4 linked regions of the Homo sapiens genome follow. The protein of the gene in region 3 purifies or fractionates together with the protein of the main gene of each other region. This does not show direct contact. Each region holds a gene or a part of one and is shown on either strand. Other genes may lie near its edges. The genes, in order: RGPD1, RGPD8, NPIPB6 and CDCA2.

The links.
Region 1: the proteins of NPIPB6 (region 3) and RGPD1 purify together in Homo sapiens (affinity purification with mass spectrometry; one large-scale study listed by BioGRID and IntAct). This does not show direct contact.
Region 2: the proteins of NPIPB6 (region 3) and RGPD8 purify together in Homo sapiens (affinity purification with mass spectrometry; one large-scale study listed by BioGRID and IntAct). This does not show direct contact.
Region 4: the proteins of NPIPB6 (region 3) and CDCA2 purify together in Homo sapiens (affinity purification with mass spectrometry; one large-scale study listed by BioGRID and IntAct). This does not show direct contact.

Annotation. Positions count from the first base shown.
Region 1 is NC_000002.12:87,008,103-87,011,353, reverse strand, and holds part of RGPD1 (RANBP2-like and GRIP domain-containing protein 1), read right to left. Parts: intron 1,131-3,251; exon of another isoform or gene 1-1,130.
Region 2 is NC_000002.12:112,423,587-112,427,158, forward strand, and holds part of RGPD8 (RANBP2-like and GRIP domain-containing protein 8), read right to left. Parts: intron 722-3,572; coding exon 654-721; intron 1-653.
Region 3 is NC_000016.10:28,346,470-28,350,041, reverse strand, and holds part of NPIPB6 (nuclear pore complex-interacting protein family member B6), read left to right. Parts: intron 1-800; coding exon 801-900; intron 901-1,012; coding exon 1,013-1,208; intron 1,209-3,572.
Region 4 is NC_000008.11:25,483,208-25,486,779, reverse strand, and holds part of CDCA2 (cell division cycle-associated protein 2), read right to left. Parts: intron 3,382-3,572; coding exon 3,294-3,381; intron 2,815-3,293; coding exon 2,570-2,814; intron 1,022-2,569; coding exon 943-1,021; intron 1-942. UniProt on the Homo sapiens protein: Regulator of chromosome structure during mitosis required for condensin-depleted chromosomes to retain their compact architecture through anaphase.

The sequences.
Region 1 (3,251 bases), on a different chromosome or scaffold from region 3:
ATCTGACCACACAAATGCTGCAGCACCCAGCTGAAATGCATTTGGATGACAATCTCAGATGGGAATCGAGAGCATCTCCTTCTGCCTTGCTAATAGCAAGCTGATTTTTAGAATATAGTCTAAGTGCTTCTCTTCCATCCTCCCCAGATTCTCACCTGCTACACACCCCTCAGAGGGACTGGAGGAATCCAGACAACGATGCGCAGGGGCCCTGGTGCTATACTACTGATCCAGAACAGAGAGATGACTACTGCGACATTCCTGAGTGTGAAGGGCAGGAGTGGCTCTAGAAAATGTTTTCATTTCTGCCCTTCACCTGTAAAATAATTTGTTGTAAAGCCCCTTCCCACAGGGATATTATTAATAATTGCGTAACGTGTTCACCTCTCGGAAAGGAGCAAAACTTTGCTCAGATCCCAGAATTAACCTGATTTTTTTTTTTTTTCTGAGACAGAATTTTGCTCTCATTGCCCAGGCTAGAGTGCAATGGTGCGATCTCAGCTCACCACAACCTCCGCCTCCGGGTTCAAGCGATTCTCCTACCTCAGCCTCCCAAGTAGCTGGAATTACATGCATGTGCCACCATGCCTGGCTAATTTTACATTTTTAGTAGAGACAGGGTTTCTCCATGTTGGTCAGGCTGGTCTTGAACTCTCGACCTCAGGTGAGCCGCCCGCCTCAGCCTCCCAAAGTGCTGGGATTACAGGCATGAGCCACCATGCCCAGCAGACCTGAATTATTATTATTAAAATGTTACATCAACATGTACAAATATAAAACTACATCTAAACTCTAAGTACAGACTTCTTATGCTTAAAACTCTTACACAGTGTTAACCCCAAGACAGATTTGCAATTAAGTAGTTAAAATAAGACAACAAAGTCAATAAAAATCAAATAAACAATATACATTTAATGTGGTAGACTTTGCTGTTTTGCTGAAGCTAAGCAAGGAACCAGTTTTTAAATCAGCAATCCGTTATTTTAATGGACTGAGCAATTTAATAGTGCACCTCAAAGGTCAATGATAAAAACTAAAAAAAAAAAATACCTACTGAAAAAACTGTCATCGTTTCACATTTCTGGCTACGTTAGTGCAAAAGGGAATAAATAAAGGTGAGATTTGTGTGACAGTGTGGATATGGTACTGTGTGACAACTCAGTTCTCCCATCACTTCCACCTGTTTGAATCATCGGGATCCTTTATTTGTACACCATGTTATCGGTATTTGCCCTTAAGCACCACCAATGCACCACTTTTATATTAAGTCTGCCCGTTTTCCTTAGTACTCCATAAAATTTAAGTCACATATTACTCTGCCTCACCATGTTACTTCAATAATTCTGAATCAAAGTTTAAGTTTGTGAATAATTTTGCAAAAAAAGAGCCAATCATGCTTCTCAACAACATAAAAAGAGAAGCGCCGTCACTTCAGGTGAATATTGTTCTCCGTGAGGCCATGAGCATAAACAAAAACTCCAGACTAAAACCCTGAGACGGTGCCAGGTCATTCAGCAGTCAGCGGAATGATCAGTATAATTTCAAACAAAGTTTTAAAGATCATTATTGAAATGATGTATTTTGAGCTTCCTGGATCTGTTCCTTTATGTCTACCTTAGTTCATTTGGGCTGCTGTGACAAAAATATCATAAACTGGAGAGTTTATAAACAACAGAAATTTATTTCTCACCGTTCTAGGGGCTGTGATGTCCAAGACCAAGGCACTAGCAGTGTCTGGTGAGGCCCTGCTTCCTCATAGATGACACATTCTGGCTTTGTCCTCACATGGTGTCAGGGGCTAGCTAATTCCCTGGGGCTTCTTTCATAAGTGCACTAATCTCTGTCCTGAGGGTAGAGCCCTCGTAACCTGATTGACTCCCAAAAGCCCCACCTCAGTACTATCACATTGAGGATTAAGTTTCAATATAACTTTTGAGGAGACACAAACATTCAGACCATAGCTTTATCTATCATGAATTTGGGGGAATTTTCAGTCACTGTTGCTTCAAATGTTTCTTCTGTTTCTTTCTCTTTTTTTTTTTTTTTTTTGAGACAGAGTCTTGCTCTGTTGCCCAGGCTGGAGTGCAGTGGCACGATCTCAGCTCACTGCAAGCTCCTCCTCCCAGGTTCATGCCATTCTCCTGCCTCAGTCTCCCGAGTAGCTGGGACTACAGGCGCCTGCCACCACGCCCCGCTAATTTTTTGTATTTTTAGTAGAGACAGGGTTTCACCGTGTTAGCCAGGATGGTCTCGATCTCCTGACCTTGCGATCTGCCCGCCTCGGCCTCCCAAATTGCTGGCATTATAGGCGTAAGCCACCATGCCTGGCTTTCTTTCTCTTTTTCTTCTCTTTCTGGTATTTCCAAAAAGTCTCCATGTTCCACCTTTTGTAATTGTCTCACAGTTCTTGACTCTTGTTCTGTTTTTTCTTTTTCATTCTTTTCTCTCATTGTGTGTCAGCTTTTGAAGTATCTATTGACATCTCTTTGAGCTCACTGATTCTTTCATTGGCCATATCCATTCTTTTGATGAACCCATCAAAGGCATTCTTCATTTCTGTTATGGTGTTTTTTATTTCTAGTATTTCATCTTTATTTCTTCTTAGTGTTTTTATCTCTTTGCTTACATTACCCATCTGTTCTTGCATGTTATGCCATTTTTACATTAGAGCCCCTAGCATGTTAATCTTAGTTATTTTAAATTCCTGGTTGGATACTTCCGATATTTCTTTCATATCTGAGTCTGGTTCTGATGCTTGCTCTGTCTCTTCAAACTGTGGGGTTTCTTGTCTTTTAGTATGCTTTGTAATTTTTTGTTTGAGGCTGTATATGATGTACTGGGTGAAACGAACTGAGTTAAATAAGGCTTTAGTATGAGATTTTGTGTTTCTCTGGCTAGGAGTTAGGCTTTGTTTACTCTTTGCTATATAGTCATGGATGTCAGAGGCTAAAATTTCCTCTAGTGTCCTTGTGTTGTCTCCCCTGTCTTCTCTGGGGAGCTCCCTAGAGGCTTCTTTGTAAAGTAGCTCTGAGTCTTGCAGTGTCTATCCCTAATCATGGGAAAACATCAAACAAACCCATACAGCGGGACATCTGACAAAGTACCAAGTGTCAAGGATCATGGATTGAATCCTGAAACAGAGGAAGGACACTGAAGGAAAGACTGGGAAAACCTGACTGAGGTCTGGAGTTTAGTTAGTGATACTATACCAAGACGAATTTCTTAGTTTTGATAATTTGTTAACAGTTATG
Region 2 (3,572 bases), on a different chromosome or scaffold from region 3:
CCAGCTACTTGGGGCGCTGAGGTGGGAAGATCGCTTGAGCCCAGAAGGCAGAGGTTACAGTGAGCAAAGATGGAGCCAGCTGCTGCACTCCAGCCGGAGCAAGAGAGACAGATACTGCCTAAAAAAAAAAAAAAGCCTGCCTCCCTCTTAATTTCCTGCTTTAATCCACTCCCAGCCAGGAAATCAGAATCACCAAGCTTCTTATCCCTAGGATAGAGCCTTACAGCATCACATATTGTGTCAATTAAAGATCTTTTATACAAGCTATTCTCCTGCCTTACAATTACAGTTTAGTTTTTTATTCATTGCTATTTTCCATCTGATTAAGGTATCAGATATCTAACCAAAAACAAATTAAGATATAGGCATGGTCCTCTTTTACTCCAACAGAAGACAATTTTTAGAAAAAGTGTTTTAAGCCAAACAATTTCTTGCCCTTGGTATAAAGCAGCAGCATGCAGAAAACACTAATTGCAGTTTCAATCTCAATGGAATCTAGGCTGGTCCTTAGCATCAGTCTGAGTGATAAATCCCTTATTCCAGAATACACTTAGGAAGAACTACTAAGAACATATTTTTACCTATTTCAAAGAAGAAAATGAGAAAAGGCATTGATTTTAAAAAAAAGAATACATGTTACGGTTTGTACTTACTTTTTAGCAAGATCATATTCTTTAGCTTCATAATACAGCTTTGCAAAATAGAATCCTTTCATTGACTTCTAAAAAAAAATTAAAAGTTGTTTTATGTTTCATACAGAAATATTTTCCAACATTTTTTCAAAAGTAGTTAAAGCCTGACAAATGCATAATTCCATGTTTTATAATTTCCTACCACAAAACAAAAAATAGAGCTGGGTGCAGCGGCTCATGCCTGTAATCCCAGCACTTTGGGAGGCCGAAGTGGGCGGATCACCTGAGGTCAGGAGTTTGAGACCAGCCTGGCTAACATGGTGAAACCCCGTCTCTACAAAAATAGAAAAATTAGCCAGGCATGATGGCGGGTGCCTGTAATCCCAGCTACTCAGGAGGCTAAGGCACAAAAATCAGTTGAACCCAGGAGGTGGAGGTTGCAGTGAGCCAGAGGTTGCAGTCAGCTGAGATCGTGCCATTGCACTCCAGCCTGGGCGACAGAGACTCCATCTCCCAAACATCATCATCATCATCATCATCATCATCATCATAAATAAGCTGGGTGCAGTTGGTCACACCTTTAATTCTATTTAATTCTAGCACTTTCAGAGACCAAGGTGGGAGGCTAGCTTTGAGGCCAAGAGTTTGAAACCAGCCTGTGCAACACAACAAGATCCTGTCTCCAGGGGGAAAAAAATAGCCAGGCATAGTGGAGCATGCCTGTGTTCCTAGCTACTCAGGAGGCCAAGGAAGGAGAATCACTTGAGCCCAGGAGGTTGACACTGCCGTGAGTTATGACTGTGACACTGCACTCCAGCCTGGGTGACACAGGGAGATCCTCTCTCTAAATAATAAATACATAACATACAAAAAATAAATTCAAGAAAGCAAGACAAGCAGACAACAGAAGTTAAGAATTTTCATCAGCCTTGGAAATCTCGGAAACCCTGTGGTACCACTCTCTCACTTAACAAACAAAAGAAACCAGCTTTCTTTGGGGAGGAAAGGTATTCCAGAAATCTCTTCTCCTACCATGTGTAAGCCTCTATGGGAAAGAATAAATAAGTACTTAGGATCTATTAAGGCACTGAGGATTCCCGGGTCCATGTACTGTTCTCTCTACAGATCAGATCAGTATTTTACAGTCAAGGAGTCAAAAAGGCAGAAATAAATATTGAATTCTTCAAGTAATAAACGAGGTCCACAGCCTGGATCCTTGGTTACATAAACTCCAAAGTCCAAAATGCTGATGCACACCAGGCTGGGTGCGGTGGCTCACACCTGTAATCCCAGCACTTTCGGAGACTGAGGCGGGTGGATCACTTGAAGCCAAGAGTTCGAGACCAGCCTGGCCAACATACAGAAACCTCCTTTCTACTAAAAATACAAAAATTAGCTGGGCATGGTGGCACACGCCTGTAATCCCCGCTGCTTGGGAGGCTGAGGCAAAGAATCACTTGAACCCGGGAGGCAGAGGCTGCAGTGGGCCAAGATCGCACCACTGAACTCCAACCTGGGCAACAGAATGATTCCATCTCAAAAAAAAAAAAAAAAAAATGCTGATACAACCAGAGTATGTTCCATCCATGTGATAGAGTATACAGCTACTCAAACATCTTATTTTTGAAATTCCAAGACCCCAGTGAATGTCCAAAACGATGAATAGTACCAAACCAGGTTGCCATCAATCGAAACATGTTTCCTGTTTGTGTCCTCCACCCACAAATTTAATGTCTTGTCCATCTCAACTAAGCACTTATCACACACTGTGGCTGTAACTTTTGCAGTTTGGGGTGTCACAACAAAACTAGCACAAATTTCTTTTTCCTTCTTCACAATTTCATGGACAAAAGATTTGTTCTTACCATAGATCTCAGCAACCCCAGTATATGATCTTTTTTCTTTCCTAAGTCAAAAACTCACCTCTTCACTTAAAGGAAGCACTATATGGCTTCTCTCTGGCATATGTGAACTGCCAGCATCGCTATTCTTGCTCTTTGGTGCCATTTTAAATAAAATAAAGGTCACTTGAACACAAGCACTGCAATACTCCAACAACTGATCTGATAACTGAGGTGGCTAGTATGTAACTAGCGGGTGGGGAGCACATACAGCATGAATATGTTGGACAAAGGGATGATTCGTGTCCTGGGTAGGACGGAGCAGGAGGCCGTGAGATTTTTATCATGTTATTCAGACCTGTTTGCAATTTAAAACTCATGAAATGTTTATTTATATAATCTTCCATTCAATATTTTTGGACCACGGGTGACGCAGGTAAGTAAAACCACGTAAGGCAATACTGTGGATAAGAAGGGACTACTGTACCAGCAACGAACAATCAGAAAATGAAATTAAGAAAGCAATTCCATTTACAATCGCATCTAAAAGAAAAAAATGCCTGGGAATAAATGTAAACAAGGAGGTGAGAGACTTGTATGCTTAAATTACAAAACCTTGCTCAATGCCAGGCTAACACCTGCAATCCCAGCACTGGCGACAGAGCAAGACTCCGTCTCAAAAAAAAAAAGAACTATAGCAATCTTAACAAAAATAATACACAACAGTCAGGACAGCACATAAAGGAACAAGTCCTGTTCCCCCCTTCCTTTTTTTTTTTTTTTTTGAGATGGAGTCTTGCTCTGTCGCCAGGCTGGAGTGCGGTGGCTCGATCTCAGCTCACTGCAACCTCTGCGTCCCGGGTACAAGCTGGGACTACAGGCGCACGCCACCATGCCCAGCTAATTTTTGTATTTTCAGTAGAGATGGGGTTTCACCATGTTGGCCAAGATGGTGTCGATCTCTCGACCTTGTGATCTGACTTCTTCCGCCTCCCAAAGTGCTGGGATTACAGGCATCAGCCACCGAGCCCGGCCAGTTCCCCCTTTTCAAAATGAAGAAATAGATTCAAGGTACAATGCCAAAACATAATAGAAAAAT
Region 3 (3,572 bases):
TATTTTTAGTAGAGACGGGGTTTCACCATGTTGCCCAGGATGGTCTCCATCTCTTGACCTTGTGATTCACCCGCCTCAGCCTCCCAAAGTGCTGGGATTACAGGCGTGAGCTACCGCACCTGGGCTCTTTTTTTTTTTTTTTTTTTTTTTTTGAGACAGAGTTTCAATTTTGTTGCCCAGGTTTGGAGTGCAATGGCACAATCTCAGCTCACCACAACCTTTTCCTGCTGGGTTCAAGTGATTCTCCTGCCTCAGCCTCCTGACTAGCTGGGACTACAGGCATGCACCACCATGCCTGGTTAATTTTGTATTTTTAGCAGAGACAGCGTTTCTCCATGTTGGTGAGGCTGGTCTCAAACTCCCGACCTCAGGTGATCCGCCTGCCTCGGCCTCCCAAAGTGCTGGGATTACAGGAGTGAGCCACCGTGCCAGCCTCATGTCATTCTTGTGTGTGTGTGTGTGTGTGTGTGTGTGTGTGTGTGTGTGTGTGTGTGACAGAGTCTCATTCTGTCGCTCAGGCTGGAGTGCAGTGGTGTGATCTCGGCTCACTGCAACCTCCGCCTCCCAGCTTCAAATGGTTCTCTGCCTCAGCCTCCCGAGTAGCTTGGATTACAGGCGCCCGCTGCCATGCCTGGCTAATTTTTGTATTTTTAGTAGAGACAGGGTTTCACCATCTTGGCCAGGCTGGTCTTGAACTCCTGACCCCGTGATCCACCTGCCTCGGCCTCCCAAAGTACTGGGATTATTTATACGCATGAGCCACCGTGCCCAGCCGTCATTCTTATATTATTATTTCCTAGGTGTCTTTCCTGAAGACTATCTTCTGGTCTCGAAATGGACATGATGGATCCATGGATGTACAGCAGAGAGCCTGGAGGTCCAACCGCAGTAGACAGAAAGGTATGGCTCTGTTGGAGTCCCCATAGTGTGGAAATGAGTTTGCCCTGGAAAGGGAAAGAACAGCTTCTTGACCTCAGGTTTCTCACCTTCTCCTCTCCTCACTCTCACCAAGGGCTGAGGTCCATTTGTATGCACACAAAGAAAAGAGTTTCTTCCTTTCGAGGAAATAAAATTGGCCTGAAAGACGTCATTACTCTACGGAGGCATGTGGAAACAAAAGTTAGAGCTAAAATCCGTAAGAGGAAGGTGACAACGAAAATCAACCGTCATGACAAAATCAATGGAAAGAGGAAGACCGCCAGAAAACAGTAAGATGTGCCTTGACACAAATACTGTTGTATGAACCATGTGCCAATCAAAGTAGACAACTGTAAAGTCCTTGAGAATATTTTCTACAATATTTGTGGCAAATTCAGTGGGCTCAAAATTGAGTTTGTCCTTTCTGCTTCATTAGTTTAAGCTGTATAATTCCTTTCCCTTCCTACATTCTTGTTTGTAATTTTTTCGGGGGAAGAGGAGTTGCTAGTACTGGCATTGGTTTTCCTTTCTCTCTCTCTTTTTTTTTTTCCTGAGATGGAGCTTTGCTGTTGTTGCCCAGGCTGTAGTGCAATGGCACAATCTCAGCTCACTGCCTTTTGGCTTCAAGCAATTCTCCTGCCTCAGCCTCCCAAGTAGCTGGGATTACAGGTGCCCACCACCACGCCCAGCTAATTTTTGTATTTTTACTAGAGATGGGGTTTCACCATGTTGTCCAGGCTGGTCTCGAACTTCTGACCTCAGGTAATCCACCTGCCTCAGCCTCCCAAAGTGCTGGGATTAGAGGTGTGAGCCACCACACCCAGCCTTTTTTTTTTTTTTTTAAAATTTTGAGATAGAATCTCGCTCTGTCGCCCTGGCTGGAGTGCTATGGTGCAATCTTGGCTCACTGCAACCTCTGCCTCCCAGTTTGAAGCAATTCTGCCTCAGCTTCCTGAGTAGCTTGGATTACAGGTGTGTGCCACCACATTCGGCCAATTTTTTTTTTTTTTTTTTGAGACAGAGTCTCACTCTGTCACCCAGGCTAGAGTGCAGTGGCATGATCTTGGCTCACTGCAACCTCCACCTCCCAGGTTCAAGTGATTCTTATCCCTCAGCCTCTTGAGTAGCTGGGACTACAGGCATATGCCACCATGCCCGGATAATTTTTGTATTCTTAGTAGAGGCGGGGTTTCACCATATTGGCCAAGCTGGTCTAGAACTCTGGACATCATGATCCACACACCTCGGCCTCCCAATGTGCTGGGATTACAGGCGTGAGCCACCGTGCCCGGCCCAATTTTTGTATTTTTAGTAGAGACAGGGGTTCACCATGTTGGCCAGGCTAGTCTTGAACTCCTGACCTCAGGTGATCTGCCTACCTCAGCCTCCCAGTGTGAGCCACCGCACCCAGCCTGGATTGTTGAATTCAATGCTTGGGTCACCTCCAGATTCATTTTCACAGTCTTTCATGTTTTGGTCATATTACATTGTATTTTGCTGCCATATGACTGAGCTCTTTTTGTTAAATGTGAGATACTTGTTAAAAAATATTTAGCAATGAATTGAGGCCTAGTGGCATGTTATCTTGCTGCAGAAGAGATGGGAGTCTACTTCTGGGGGATGGTCACGGGTCCTCCATACAGGCTGCAATTGAGGTCGTCGGTGCAGGCTCAGTCCCTACAAAGGCCAGGGTATTTCCTGTCCACCTCTATTCTGATGCATGACTCTTCTGGGTCTCAACCAGAGCCAGTGGACTTCAGTACGGGTCGCTTTCATTGGCAGACCCTCAATCCACTTGTTTTCCATCTAATCCCACGCATGTGTGCAAAAGCTGCTGTGCTTCTTTACATCTCAGTAGTTCCTTCTGGAATTCAGCAATGAAACTCAGGGAAATGGGTTCCAAATGCGAGGCTGACTTTCGTCCTGGGTTTCCTTCTTCTCCATCTTCACCTCATGTCTGTTTACTGCCATGTTAGCAATTTGATGTATTCAATCATGGGTTTTATATTCTGTTTGGTGTCCCCCATTGTTCTCATCGGAGATCAGAAGCTTCAGATGCACTTATGTCAACTCAAGAGTAGAATGCTTCCTTAGCTTCCCTCCAGAGTCAGGTTTTGTGTTTCTAGTTCCCAAGTGGACAGCAGGAGTAGTGATGTCCTCACTGGCTTCTCATTTGCATTAAGCTGTGAGCTTCTTTACCGTGGGGACAGGACCCTGCTCCCATTGCATTCTCAGCACCACACCACACACTCCTTGTTGGAGGCCACTCCAGACAGCATGTGCTGAAGGATGCCCTGTGGTCAGAAACAAGTTCATTAACTTTCTCTTTGAAGTGTTTTCGCCCCTGTTTCCTAGCGTTCTGGGAATTTTACACATCCTTCCTATAAAACCAAGTATCAGGTGAGATCCTTAGGATCAGGACCATGAATCAAGTGGTGTGAGGGCAACACAGCAAACTTACCCTTTTTAGGCCATTTCCTTTTTCTGCCCTCAATGTCTGTGAACTGAACCTTGTTAAAGTCAGTCAACACCAGGGTGGATGGTTTGCCGTTGTCACCTATTTTCAGGACATAACACCCTGACTTAGGAGCCATTCCGATCATTTCTAATTCAATAGATGCGCCCAGCATTCAGATTGCCTTTTCTCTCAACCA
Region 4 (3,572 bases), on a different chromosome or scaffold from region 3:
GCAGTGGTGCAATCTCAGCTCACTGCAACCTCCGTCTCCCCGGTTCAAGTGATTCTTCTGCCTCAGCCTCCTGAGTAGCTGAGATTATAGGCACCCGCTACCATGCCTGGCTAATTTTTTTTTTTTTTTTTGTATTTTCAGTAGAGACCAGGTTTCACCAAGTTGACCAGGCTGGTCTTGAACTCCTGACCTCAAGTGATCTGCCTGCCTTAGCCTCCCAAAGTAAAGGGATTACAGGCATGAGCCACCGCACCTGGCAGACTTTTAATGATATAAATGAAAGGTGGTATAATATGTTTAAGGGTATGGCCTTTGGAATGTGATAGACTGTGATTCAAATTTTAGCTCTAACTTAGTAACACATGGCTTGGAGTCTACTAGGTTTGGTTTGTGTCAACAAGAAGCCATTAAGGGGTTTCCGCCAGGGAAGACACCTGAATAAAGGTGCCTGGCCCATGACACCTGCCAGCTAAGTCCTGGTTTGTCAGAAAAGCTGGGAGCAATCTGTTGCTTTGTCATAATCATAAAAAATCCAGAGACCTTGGAAAGCACATGTGCTAAAAACGCCACAATGAATGTTGAGGAAAAAGTCTGGATATTTAAGAATGATCCTTACAATCCAGATGTCAATTCTGTAAACTGTGAATAGCAGTTTGTCATTGATACTTAAGAGTTGAGAGGCTAACTCCATTGCTTCTAGCAACTAACAAAATGGGGATTCCATCTGAGGAAGTAAATTCTGGGTGATTATGAAGTATGAGGCTTGGAATGGAAAAGGGATGGATGAATAGCTTCATGTCAGCTTCCCAATACTATTAGGTGTTTTTAAACCAAGTATATGTTGTGGTAACAAATATGAAATTTTTAAAAGAAAACAAAAATAATCAACATATACACATATAAAAAATGACATTTATGATTTTAAGATAAACAAGTTACTACCTGAAAGGGTCTCAGAGATTGATGATTTATTAGGAGAACTGAGAACGGCAAATGATACTTGAAGTGGTTCTATGTTTTCCTAAACAAAGGAAAAGACAGAAGTTAGATATCTTTAAATGCAGTGAATACATAATGTGCCCAAAAGAAGAGTAAGAATTTATTTTGGTAGGAGAAACTATAATAAGCATAAAGATGGGTAATCAATAAAAGATTCTAAAATTCAAAGCAAAACAAAGATATTGAATAGAAAAATATATGTATACCATTTACCAATCATGTTTGCAATGAAATGCTTACTAACTGCAATCCATCAAACTACTAAGAAAATTTATAAGCGAAAGTACACATAATGATCTACTGCTAAATTTCTAACTCCTATAAAGAAAATTTAAAAATTCATTCATAAACACAATCTAACGTTATAATGTTATTCAGGGAACTCCAGAGTAAGATGGCAATATAAATACAGATAGCAAATCTTTTCCACATAATTGTTGGTAAGACATTAACTGTTGGTTTTGCATAGACATTAGTCAATTTGAAGAAATTCTTTTATTACCATTTTGCTCAGAGGTTTTATTTTTTAAATGAGAAGTGGATACTATATTTTGTTAAATGCTTTTTCTTTATTATTATTATTATTATTATTATTATTATACTTTAAGTTTTAGGGTGCATGTGCACAACATGCAGGTTTGTTATGTATACACGTGCCATGTTGGTGTGCTGCTTTTTCTGCAACTACTCAGATGATCGTATTTCTGTCTTAGTCTTTTAACAAGGCAGATTACACTGATTGTTTTTCAAACATTAAATGGCTTTGCAGCCCAAGGCTAAATCTCACATGGTTATGATGTATTATCTTTTTATATATTGCTATGTTTACAAGGATACTGAACTGTAGTTTTCTTCTCTTATAATGCCTGTCTGATTTTGCACCAGGTTAATGCTGAAATCACAATGCTGACATCAATTAACCTACCCCTTCAATTTGTGGAAACACTTGTGTAGAATTAGTATTTTAACTTGCTCAAGTGTTTGGTAGTATTCATCAGTAAAATCATCAAAAACTAGCCAGGCATGGTGATGTGTGCCCATGTCCCAGCTACTCGGGAGGCTAAGACGGGAGGATATGGGAGGATAGCTTGAGCCTGGGAGGTTGAGGCTGCAGTGAGCCATGACCGCACCACTGCACTCCAGCTTGGGTGACAGAGTAAGACCCTATCTCAAAAAAAAAAAAAAAAAAAATCATCTATACCTAGAGTTTTCTCTGTGGGAAGGTTTTAACTAAAATTTAAATATCTTAAGTTGATATAGGGATAATGAGGTAATTTATTTCACCTTTAGTGAGTTTTGGTAATTTGTGTCTTCTAAGGAATGTATCCAGTTTACCTAAGTTGTTAAATTCATTGGCATAAATCTGTTCAATATGTACAAGGAGTCAGGGAAGTATTATTTGTAATGGGCAAAAACTCATAAAAACCTACATACAAAATAGATTAATTTAAACCATGGCATATCATTTAGTCTATCTCATTATTTCAAAGCATAGTTATTGCTCATGCAAAGCAGGTGAAGCCTGATGAAAATACATATGGCAAGCTTGTTCCACGCTTTTCATACTTACAAGATTCTCCCCCTTGTCATCAAAATCTGGTTGAGGTAATGGCTCAGGAACAGGTGACTGCTCAAGCAGCAGGGAACTGAGACCACTGAAGTCTTTTTTACAAACAGGTGTTCCTCCTTTACGCAATGGAGTATTTGCTGGCAAAGATTCATCAAACACTTCCGGGCTTAAGTCCTCTCCAAAAGTAACTCTCTTCCTCTTCCTCATATTTAGAAAGGCAGGTGCTTCAAAATTTTCTTCATCTTCTATAATTAGACAATAAATGAGAGTAACTTAAAAATTAAGCTATATTTCTTATCTAAAAGGCATATACTAGAATCTTTTAATGTGATAATATTCAGCTATTATTTGTATAATAGCTAGTAAAGCAAAGCTATAAAATAATTGTTGGTAGAGCAAATTCAAAATGGAGAAGATAAGCACATTTCCAATTAAAATATGGCAACAGATTTCCAAGTAAAAATTTGCATATTAAACGTTAATAAAATTGAAATATAAATTTTCTTTACAAATACCACCACTAAGTAAAAATGGATCCATGAAATGGACAGACCAATTCTGAGGCTCTCCAAGGAGATTCTAACCTTCTCAACTGTTCTTCATTCACGTGTTATTTCAGAAGCACTAAGGCATTATAGATCATTGAAAATTTCATATATTATACTAGGTTTTACTAACATGAAAATGATATCCTCAAGCTTAAAAACAAGTATGAATTTCTTACCTGCTTCTTTCTCTTTGCAACAGTTTGGGAGATTTGAGATTAAGCTCGGATGAGTCCCATCATCATCATAGAGGTTGTTACAGTGTTCCTAAACAGAATAAACATTAATGAATAATTTTACATATAGAAATACATAGACGTCATCATTAAGAACAGCAGTTTTGAAATTCTCTGTCAACTGCAGATAGATATTCCAGTATTAAAGATTACCTTTATTTTCAATAATTGTTCTGGCTCAAAACCATGATATCAGGCACAAATCATAACTATGTCCCCTAG